Linked DNA regions of Homo sapiens: regions 1 and 3 are each reported to be linked to region 2. Evidence: microRNA targets listed by miRTarBase, many of them from high-throughput screens and not tested one by one. Region 2 holds a microRNA gene; each other region holds the end of a gene's coding sequence.

Evidence for each region. The annotated mature microRNA hsa-miR-6837-5p reads ACCAGGGCCAGCAGGGAAUGU and lies in region 2 at 1,489-1,509, opposite strand. An mRNA with a match to its seed (bases 2 to 7 or 8) in the 3' UTR can be bound and repressed. Matches are read on the target gene's strand: a 7mer-m8 pairs with bases 2 to 8, a 7mer-A1 pairs with bases 2 to 7 and ends in A, and an 8mer does both.
Region 1: miRTarBase lists CTNNBIP1 as a target of hsa-miR-6837-5p. Seed matches in the 3' UTR shown: 7mer-A1 at 2,545-2,551, 7mer-A1 at 2,236-2,242, 8mer at 756-763 and 7mer-m8 at 633-639.
Region 3: miRTarBase lists TMX2 as a target of hsa-miR-6837-5p. Seed matches in the 3' UTR shown: 7mer-A1 at 2,144-2,150.

What each region holds. Positions count from the first base shown.
Region 1 is chr1:9,848,148-9,851,147 of GRCh38, forward strand. It overlaps CTNNBIP1 (catenin beta interacting protein 1), which reads right to left. Exons shown (of 6, transcript NM_020248.3): 6 at 129-2,629. The coding sequence ends at 2,571. CTNNBIP1-AS1 (CTNNBIP1 antisense RNA 1) reads left to right here and starts at 171. Exons shown (of 3, transcript NR_199045.1): 1 at 171-319; 2 at 1,222-1,327; 3 at 1,839-2,007. LOC105376717 (a long non-coding RNA gene) reads left to right here and starts at 2,518. Exons shown (of 2, transcript XR_946952.3): 1 at 2,518-2,897. RefSeq lists enhancers at 170-671, 1,806-1,945, 2,026-2,075.
Region 2 is chr7:44,049,243-44,053,279 of GRCh38, reverse strand. MIR6837 (microRNA 6837) reads right to left here and starts at 1,514; the gene lies at 1,451-1,514. It overlaps DBNL (drebrin like), which reads right to left. Exons shown (of 13, transcript NM_001014436.3): 2 at 3,000-3,055; 3 at 1,338-1,450; 4 at 339-413.
Region 3 is chr11:57,740,039-57,743,038 of GRCh38, reverse strand. It overlaps TMX2 (thioredoxin related transmembrane protein 2), which reads right to left. Exons shown (of 8, transcript NM_015959.4): 8 at 2,066-2,940. The coding sequence ends at 2,794. SELENOH (selenoprotein H) reads right to left here and starts at 1,548. Exons shown (of 4, transcript NM_170746.4): 1 at 1,322-1,548; 2 at 1,085-1,230; 3 at 792-922; 4 at 1-176. The coding sequence starts at 1,443. The coding sequence ends at 822. The region is part of intron 2 of TMX2-CTNND1 (TMX2-CTNND1 readthrough (NMD candidate)); the gene reads right to left. RefSeq lists enhancers at 1,037-1,206, 1,357-1,406, 1,727-1,846.

The DNA.
Region 1 (3,000 bases), not on the chromosome of region 2:
TGGTGTTGTCCTTCCTGGCTGCGCCTCCCTGGGAAGGAGGGGCCCCCGCAGCAGCAGAGCCCACGTGATGTGGGGAAATCAGTCAGAGCGCCTGATTCCGAGGGAGAAACCAGCTCAGCTCACACACGAACCTATGAAAATTCTTTATTGTTAATTTCTTTCTCCAACAGATATATTTTTAGTTGAAATATGGAGCCACAGCAACACTTTGACTTTTCCTCTTCAGAAGATGAGACAGGCCGGGGTCATCATTGTTACAAAAGCAAGGCCTGTGATCGTGACAAGGACAGGCTGGGGCAGAGACCACACACTCAACCAGGTATCCACCAGGTGTGGGCCCTTTATAGGAGCTACAAAGAGGGGGCAGCCAGCAATGTGGCCTCGACACCTGACTCCAGGCACTCCGACCTGGAGGAGGGAGATGAAAGAACTCACCTTTCCCCAGGGGCTCAGCCAGACCTCCAGGCCCCTGAGCGGGGAGAGTGCGTGTGTGTGCACATGTGTATGAGTGTGCACACGGGTGTGCTCACTCACACAGCACATGCACACATGCGCTGCCCCTCCTGAGATGCTCTCAGGTCCCTGCCAGGGTAGGGTTGTAGCTGTGTTCCCCACAGCTGACTGTCAGCTAACCAGGGCTAGGGGTGAGTGCATGGTGGAGGACACAGGGTCTTAGCCTGATGCTCGAATCCTCCTTCTGGAACAGGCTGATGGTGCCAGAGCACAGCACGAACCACCTACCCACCATGGGGCTCTCCAGGGCTCGGTCATTTGGCTCCTGTGCACTTCATGACACTCAGGAGCCCCTACGGCCCGAGCCCCAAGCCCCGAGAAAGGGGAAAGATTTGGTTCTGAGAGGGTCCCACTGGCCCTGGGCACCTAGGGGCCTCAGCATCTACCAGCATAGGGGAGGGTGGCGGCCCCCTTCCTGAGGACTGCATCTTTCTCCAGCCGCTCTCCCCAGATCCCACACCTGCCAGTGAGCCAGGGAGATAGGAGGACCACCTCCCTCCCAGGGAAGGGGGTGGCAGGTGGAAGGACTTAGGTTTGGTGCAGGAACACTAGACCTGCCCCTCACCCCCTGCCTCCAGGACTGCCATTCTGAACTGCAATTCTGGGCCTGAGTTTGGCTTAAGGGCCAGTCTGAAGGGACTTGCTTGGTGAAGGCCCAGCCAGCTGTCCCAGTGGCATTTCATAAACAAACGATACTGTCCCTTCCAGGCTGACCTGGAGAGAGACCCTTCCAAAGGCAGTGGAGTGGAGGGCATGGGCCTCCGATGAGAGAACTCCAGAGCTGGCCGGGACCTACTGTGCTGGCAGCAGACAGGTAGGAGCCTGGCTGGGGTAGGTCAGGGGTTGGTGTTTAGCTGGAGGTCTCCTGGGCCTTGTGAGCCAAGCTGGGGCTTTTATGTGGGTTCTGGGCTCCCAGAGACCTCCGCCAGATGACCTCCAGAGTCTTTGGGGTCTCACACTGGGAGAAGCTCCTCCCCTTTCCAAGATGACCCCCAAAATGAGGCCTCAGGAAGTGGTACACAGAAGGATGGCCAAGAGGACAGAGCTGGGTAGTACGCCTCTGCTGGGCGCGGCCTGGCCGGTGGGGCCTGGACGGTGCCTCAGCAATCCCTTTCTCACCAAGGGACGCTGGCTGGTTGCCAGCTCATGCAGGCAGTGCACATAAATCCCGCCTAACGGTTACCTCTAGGCCCTGGGCTGCTCGTTCAAGACGACACAAAGCTCCTCAGGGGCCCAACTTTCCAGCTGTGGACCCTGCTCAGGGTTCTCGGGGTCCCCTTGCTGGTGGAGGCAGGTGCACTCATTAAAGCAAATGTACTCTCCAGGTGGACCCTCAGGCCCAGAGCCGGCAGCAGAGGGGGGTGAATCCATGGCAACAGGAGTCACAGGTGAACCAATGGGAAACCAAACACACGCATCGAAAGCCAATCAAACACAAACCCCAAATGTGAAGGCAGCAGCAAGTTCTTTGTGTAATAAATATTGCAAAGCGCACTTGGTTTCTTTCTTTTCAAGTCAAATATAACGACTAATGTCCCAGACCCTGTTTTCTGCATTCAAAATAGGGAAGCTGTTGATATCAGCAGAACACCTGCAGCCAAAGAAAAAAACCGTTTCCCATTAACCAGCCAATCACAGATCCTTTCCAGTTTAAGCAGCCAATCAGACCTCTTCACATTTCTAAAAAAATGACCTAACTAAAGCACCAGAGCTCGGAGAGCTTCCAGGGAAGCCAGATACCGAGGCGCAAATTTTTTAAAAAATAAGAGTCAGAAATAAAAATAAAAGGTTTCTGTTGGTCAAGATTTAAAAAATAAAAAAGTTTCTTCCTGCAGCCAATCACAAGTCCATCCCTTTAAGCCAATTATAAACGCACCACTGGTGTCTCCCTTGATGCCAGCCCCACTGAGTAGCTGTGAGGTGGGGTGGGGCAGGGCAGGGTTGGGTAGGGGAAGGGGGAGGTGGGGCAAGGGGGGCTGCTGCCACTCAGCCGGCCCAGGAGCCACACAGATCTCTTGGCCCTCAACAGCATCCAGGGTGTTCCAAGGGCTTTGCAGCTACTGCCTCCGGTCTTCCGTCTCCGACCTGGAAAACGCCATCACCACGTCCTCTGCACCTGCAGATAAGGCGACAAGGATCGCTGATGGGGCTTGCAGCATTGGCTTGCGAACAGGACAAGCAAGGAGGCTGCGGCCAAGCTGGAGCCCCCGCCCACCAGGATCGCGGCACTCTCTGAGGACAAAGTACTTCCGAGGAAGTCTTCCTCCCCTCTGGTCTTCCCTGCCTCCTGGCTGGGGACAAGGCTTGCAACCCTGCTGTAGGGCTGCAAGGCAGGGCTGCCAGGGTGAGGCTCAGAGGCTTGCTCAAGGCTACACAGCTGACAGGTGAGCCATGACGAGGCCCCAGGTGACCTGGAGCAGGGCTCAGCGCTGCTCACAGCCCTTGCTCCAGAGTTACCAAAGCCAGAGGCGGGGTGGCCCTTGGGAA
Region 2 (4,037 bases):
TCCAAATCCTGACGGTATTACTAAACTGTTTAGAGGGATCATAAAACAAAACAGAACCAGGGCCCACCCTTCTCACGGCACCAGCTCCAGCATAGTCCTTTATCCTGCCCCACTGAGGCAGGCCTGTAGGTGGCCCTGGCAACATCCTGACCTCCCATGCACTCACTGACCGAGAGTGAAGCAGCCTCTGGTCATGCCCTCAAAGGCAGGCAGAGAGCATTAGCTATGAGCACACTCCCAACTCCAGTTCTGATTCCCACTTGCTCGCACCCAGGAACCTGCGAGACCTCAAGCCTGTGAGGCCTGTTCCCAGTGAAGCGGGCCTCACCTGGCCTTACCTTCAGGAAGCTGGCCATGGTGCTGACGTGGCTGGCACAGGCTCCCTTCCGCACATCGTTCACGCCCTCGCCTGTCTGCAACACAAGGATGCCCAGGTTGACCCAGGCCTCCCCCAAAGCCACTTCCCTTCCCTGGGGACCCAACATCTACCCTGTGTCCCAGAAAAGAGAAAACTGCAACCCCCAAAGCAGAACCTATTCTTCTGACTGCATCACATGGGTGAGGTAAGTTCCCATGCCTCCAAGGGGCTCATGGATTCTCCCTGGGCAGGATGGCTACCGGCTTTCGCTGTGGGGGCATTTCATGAATTTTCTTTTTTTTTTTTTTTTTGGAGATGGAGTCTTGCTCTGTGGCCCAGGCTGGAGTACAGTGGCGCAATCTTGGCTCACTGCAACTTCTGCCTCCTGGGTTCAAGCAATTCTCTTGCCTCAGCCTCCTGAGTAGCTGGGACTACAGGTGCACGCTGCCATGCCCAGCTAATTTTTTGTATTTTAGTAGAGATGGGGTTTCACCATGTTGCCCAGGCTGGTCTCAAACTCCTGAGCTCAGGCAGTCCACCCACCTCGGCCTCCCAAAGTTCTAGGATGACAGGTGTGAGCCACCCCACCCAGCCTTCAAGAGTTTTCTTGATCCCCACCAAGGGATCAAGGAGGCCCTGTCCCTGTACTCCCAGGCTCCTAAACACTCCCTCAGGCTCTCTACTCCATCAGAACAACCACCCTCAAGAGCACGGAGCAAGGACTCCCTGTGACTGCTTTTAATCCATTTTGCAGGAAGAACTCTAGGCTTGGAAGGTGAATTCTGCATAGCAAAGCCACAGTTATTCTTTGGGCCACAATGAATCTGTCAACTATTCTGCTCATTCACCAGCTCAGAGCTGTTCTATTGATCTACTAAGTCATGCCAGTAAAACACTTTGTTCCTGAAGTCAAGTCAAAACAGGAAAGAAGACAATGGGGTTTCCTGGGTCACACCTAGATGAAACAGGCTCCACATACCCAGTTGATGAGGACAAATTTGGGCAGTCCAGAGTTGGGGTCCTTCACTCTGCAGAAGGCGTACATCACCTTCCCGCTGTTGAGCTCCTCCACCATCTCCTCCAGGCCACCCTCTGCAGCAGAGTCACAGTGAAGGTCAGGGGTGGCCCTGACATTCCCTGCTGGCCCTGGTCCCACCATGAAGGGAGGCCGAGCTGCTTCTAAACCAGGGCTTCTCACCTCTACCTGTATCAGAATCTTTCTAGGGGTATGTTTAAAATCAGAGTCCTGGGCACCACCCTCACTAAACTGATTGATGAGAGCTGGGTGGGACCTAGAAGTCTGCGATTCTGACAAGTACCTCAGGTAATTTTTTTTACCCACACTCGTTTAAAAACCACTTCTCTAAACCCAGAGGTAATTCTGGAAATAAAAACAGGGTCATTTCCACGGCAAACCAGCCACCAGACTTCCAAATGGAGGATGGCTACGTCAAAATTTTATTGTTGCCACAACGTTGCAAAAGGGCCCGGAATAGCAGGGCCTGTAGAGTCACCACTGCCTGCACCTGTGTCTGCTCAAGTTCCAGGGCCACCCAGACGGCCAGACCAGATTGAACATCCTGCAGTGGCGTAACTGGCTCAGTCCTCAGACTCCAGAAGAGAGGGTGATGGGGACAGGGGGAGCACAGGAGTGGGCAGCTCTAAACAATTCTCCCTGACACTGAGGCTTAGCCCTCACAAACTTTTCCAGGTTATAAGGAGGAAGAGCTGATCAGGTATTTCATCTACAGGGCTCCGTATGAGTGGAGGCAGTCATGAGCCCCACTCTGGGGACAGCAAATTGTTGCATTTGTGGCAGAGCCCTGTCCTGTGCCACTGGGGATGACAGGAAACTCTCAAGTTGTTGATCTCTGCAACTCCCAGTCACCTGCCACACCACATGTCTACTGTTCAATGGCAATCCTTCTAGAAAGGGGACACCTCCCAGAAAGATTGTGAAAGGAAGGGGCTTTCTACCAACAACAGACATCAAACCGTGGAGAACCACTCCGAGTGTTCATTGAACAATGAAGCCATGTCCAGCTCAGGACAGAGGGAGGGGTCAGGCAACTTCTGGAGGAGGAGCAGTCACGGGTGTCAGCTGAGGGGCCCACAGGTCACACTCTGACGAAGCCTACCCTGACAACCTCTGCTCTGTGCTGGCCAAGAGCCTGTCCTTCCTGTAGAGACCTCCAGAGCCTCCCCCGTGACTATCTGCAGTGATACTGCCTCTCCCAGTGAGGATGGGGCCCCTGCAAGCACTCGGCACAAGACCAGGGCAGGACAAAGGGAGAAGAAGATATGTCTGTGGACTTTCTTTCCACCAGCACCAGTTCTGGGACTGGTGAGCTTCCCACCGCAGCTCCCAACGCAGGCTGCCCACAAGCTGGAGAGGCCTGTTTCCCTCTCAGCTCTCCCCAAGTAGACAAAGAGAAAGCACTCCCCTGCACCCAGAGGGAAGGAGAACCAAGGAGGAATGTTTTCACTTACACATATCTGAAACCTAAGGCCTGCCAGAAGTGGCCAGTGAGCACTGGAAGCCCCATGTGGCTCAGTGGACCAAGACAGCTGAGTGCGCTGACCCCTCGTCGTCACCCTCCTACCTCCTGGTGTCCCTGAGTCCATTTGGAGTCATACTCACCCCCTGTGCCAGCCACGCGGATGTCATTGCTGTTGCCTTCATAGGTAAAGAGAGCCCTGAAACGAAACACAAGTGAGCTCTGTAGCCAGCACCTTGGGTTCCATCTCTCCTCACCGTATCCACCATGACTTTCCACTACATCCCAAAGAGCTTGGGCTGACAGTAACACTGTGGGTGGGCACAGGCCCGTTCTCACTTTGCTCTGACCCACTAGGCAGGTTCTCAGTAGGCAACTGTGCAGCCTTCTCAGCTCTGCAGCTGGGAGGACACTGGCCTGACTTACCATGGGGTGGGGGTTGTGAGGGACAAAGCCATGGAGATGGGAGCACACATCTACTATGAGGAAAACATGAGCTGTGGAGTTTCCCAATGACTGCTATACATTCATGTGTCAAATACTCACCTGGCCACTAGGTATATGGATTTGAAGAGACAAAACATATCTACATATTCCTGAACCCAGAGCACCCAAAAGGAGAAGCAAGTCGGAGAAATACACACACTGGGCCCCTTGGAAGGCTGCCCACCACTCCTGTGCACGTCTGCCCTGGCTCCAGTGAAGCCTGGTGGGTAGGGCAGCAGGTCCTTCCAGGCTTGAGACTCTTTGGTAAACACAGACTACCACAGGTTGTGTTTATCAGAAACCACAAAGGAATGACACGACATGAAATCACACAGTTAAAGCCATGAACCTGCCAAGCCCCTCACGGACAGGTACCCATGAGCAAGTTTTCTATCTAGCAGAGCCTTATCTCTCCATGGGTGACATGGGGCCATGGCTTTCTTTTCCTGAAAGATTAATTATTCATAAGAACTTTGGGCTGGGCGCAGTGGCTCACGCCTGTAATCCCAGCACTCTGGGAGGCCGAGGCGGGCAGATGTGGATCACGAGGTCAGGAGATCGAGACCATTCTGGCTAACACGGTGAAATCCCATCTCTACTAAAAATACAAAAAATCAGCTGGGCGTGGCAGCAGGCACCTGTAGTCCCAGCTACTCAGGAGGTTGAGGCAGGAGAATGGCATGAACCCGGGAGGC
Region 3 (3,000 bases), not on the chromosome of region 2:
TACTTTATTTCAACTTTTATTAAACCAAATCCAGTAACTTTTACAATGCCTTACTAGAGGGTTGCCTCATAACTGAACCTTCATTTCTGGCAGGGAAGAAACCATGGCTTCAGGATCATGACTGAAGTTTGGCCATGTTCCATCATTAATGTTCCAACATCACCAGGGACACAAAGCTGCAAAAATGAGAAGGGAAATAAGGTTAGAGAAAGGATCTGGGCAATCTTAAGGACTGAGGAAGACATGTTCCCCAACCCTTGAACTCACAAACCCTGAAGCTCAAGGATTGCATCCTTCCTCCAAATCTCACTCAACATAATAAGTGCAGAACAACATGCCAAAGCACTGTATGAAGCACTAGGGACAAAGACAAGGTCAAAATCCTTGTAACCAAATTTAATGGTATTGTAATGCAGTGTTAACACAGGACAGTAACAGAACACCCAAGAACCAAACAGAAGAGGGTAGGGATAAGCATAAATGAAGTAACATGAAATAAACTTCCAAATGGAAAACTTGTCCATACCCCCAGGGCAAGTCAACTACAGTCTCCCAAAGGACATAAATTCCACTTAGGGCACACTAGACAGAAAACAATATTGTGTCTTTTTTTTGTTTTTTGTTTTCAAATAGGGTCTCCCTGTGTTGGCCATCCACTCCTGCCTCGACCTCCCAGAGTGCTGGGATTGCAGGCGTGAGCTACCCACGCCAGGTGGGTACTTGTAGCCACACCAAGATCAATGCCTTCTCTTCCTCAACAGCGGTCGCGCCCCCCACTTCCCATTTCAAACCTCAGCATGAGGGCTTCTACCCAAATCTCCCTACGACAGGTACTTCTTCAACTCTTCCACCACCTCTTGAGGCTCAGGGAATTTGAGTTTGCGTGGGGGCCCCTTCTTAATCCCAGTCCAGAGCTCCGCACCTGAAAGGCCAGAATGAAGCGAAGTTACAATACTTCGGAACCCACGAGCACGTCTCTGAAGTCATGAGACTGCCGTGGTTTCTAAGAATAGCGCTTCCTGTCTTCGGAACCCACGTCCCTTTCACCCACGTCCCTCTCCCCCACATCCAGGTCCCCACTTACTGCTGCCGTCCGGGCGCAGCAGCGTCACCTCGAAGCTGCCCCTCCGGGGCTTCGTCGGGTTCACCTTTACTGGAAGCTCTGGGGCCTCCAGGCGCAGCGCCTGGCTCAGGGCCGCGGCGTTGCGCCCATAGACGCGTCAGCTAGTGCTAGGGAGAGACGGAGAGGTTAGAAACCGGGGCCCCTGGCCCCCCCCGGCGCCACTGTTCCCTCTCTCCCGTTACTCTCCAGGCCCCTCACCAATGCTCGATAACAACGGTCGCCTCCTCCATTCCCTCCCCGCCGTTCGCCAGCTTCTCTCGCTTCTCGGCTACGGCGACCACCGCGGCCTCAGCCTTACGCTTCCTCCCGCGGGGAGCCATGGCGCCTAGAGCCCGGCCGAGAATGCAGCGGGACTGGTGGGTGGGGGGCGGAGACGCGACCACTGAGCGGAAACTGGGCAACGAAGAGCGCAGCCCGGAAGCTCTGCTCCTACAGCGGAAACCTCTCTCAAAGGAAGGGAAAGCTTGGCCCGCAGCACCCACGTGGCCTGGAGGCGGACCTTGGGGCACAACCACTTTGCAAGCAGGGAGCGGGAAGGTGCGGGAAGCGCCTGACGGAACCACCCATCGCTTCGGGTGGAGGGGACAGGGGACGCTGGGATGGTGAACACAGCAGGAAGGGGCGGAGACTAGGTCCGACTGCTAGCCTCGCTTCGCGCAATCTTTTCTGTACCTTTGCATGGCGCTAAATGTTGTGTGCCACCATCTGCCGCCAAACTCTCCTCCCTGGCAACCGCAGGCCAATCCCAGAGTAAACCCACCACCTAACAACATGTGGCCGCTATTCTAGATTTATGGAAACTAGACTTCTCCAACTCTTGCCAGTCCTGGGGATCAATGCCCGGCATTTGGTGAAACCAAATAGGATGGCCTTTGCCCTTAAGATGGGCAATTCCTCTGCAGTTGTCAGGCTTTTCTAATACAGAAACACACAAACGCGCAATCAAAAGGAAATCCCAATCTTTTTATTACGGAAAGCCATCAACTGGGTGTGGGGAGTATGTCAGAGGGTTAGTGAAAGTCCAGGGGATTTCTCCTCCAAGTCCTACCACACAAAGGAAAGTCTCAAGCCTCTATTCACCCCTTCTCAATCCCCACAAAATAGGGGGTTGTTCAATATTGTCTTCAATGATAAAAACTTTGTGGTTAAAGGTTTCTCCTTAGGACTAGCGACAAAGTTAGGCTTATACTTTTAATGAAGACCATAAACGAAGCCAGAAGGGCTTAAGGAAGCAAGAGTCCTTGGGGGAAAATTCTTAGCGTTCTATACCCCAGCATCTTACCTTAGGGTTAAATCTAGGTCTAACCAAGCTGTGCAGGTCAACTAAGAAGGAATGATGAAACCACAGAGTTTCATGGAGAAACCATGGAGATGTCTGAATAGCTGATAAGCAGTTAACACACTGACCCAAGCTTGGAGGGAAACCATTTCCCCCTCCGTCCTATGAGATCTCTTTCTTGCTCCAGTGAAACAGTTGGCCACAGCATGGCAGGCCTTCCTGTAGGGTGCCTGACAATTCCCTAGATGCCTCTTTAAAATCAGAAGCTGCATGCTGCCCCACCCAGTCACAGCCAAAGGGAAAACATAAATAAAAGGCTGCAGCCTCAGGCTTGTGGTTATGGAAAGAGCCTGGAATTGACAGGAGAGGAAGCACTGCCAAAGTGAGGATCTTATTTATCCTTCTTGTTTTCCCCATCTGACACTGTGGTGGGGGTTGAAGCCACAGGCTGCTCCTCAGGGATATTGTCTCCAGCCTTTGATAGTTTCTTGGCCCGCTGGTATAGCTCATTTAAGTTAAATTCTCGGATCACATTCTCCTGCACAAAAGAGATGCACACGTCAGGATCTGGGTTGGAAGGGAGAGTAAAGAGCCTGGG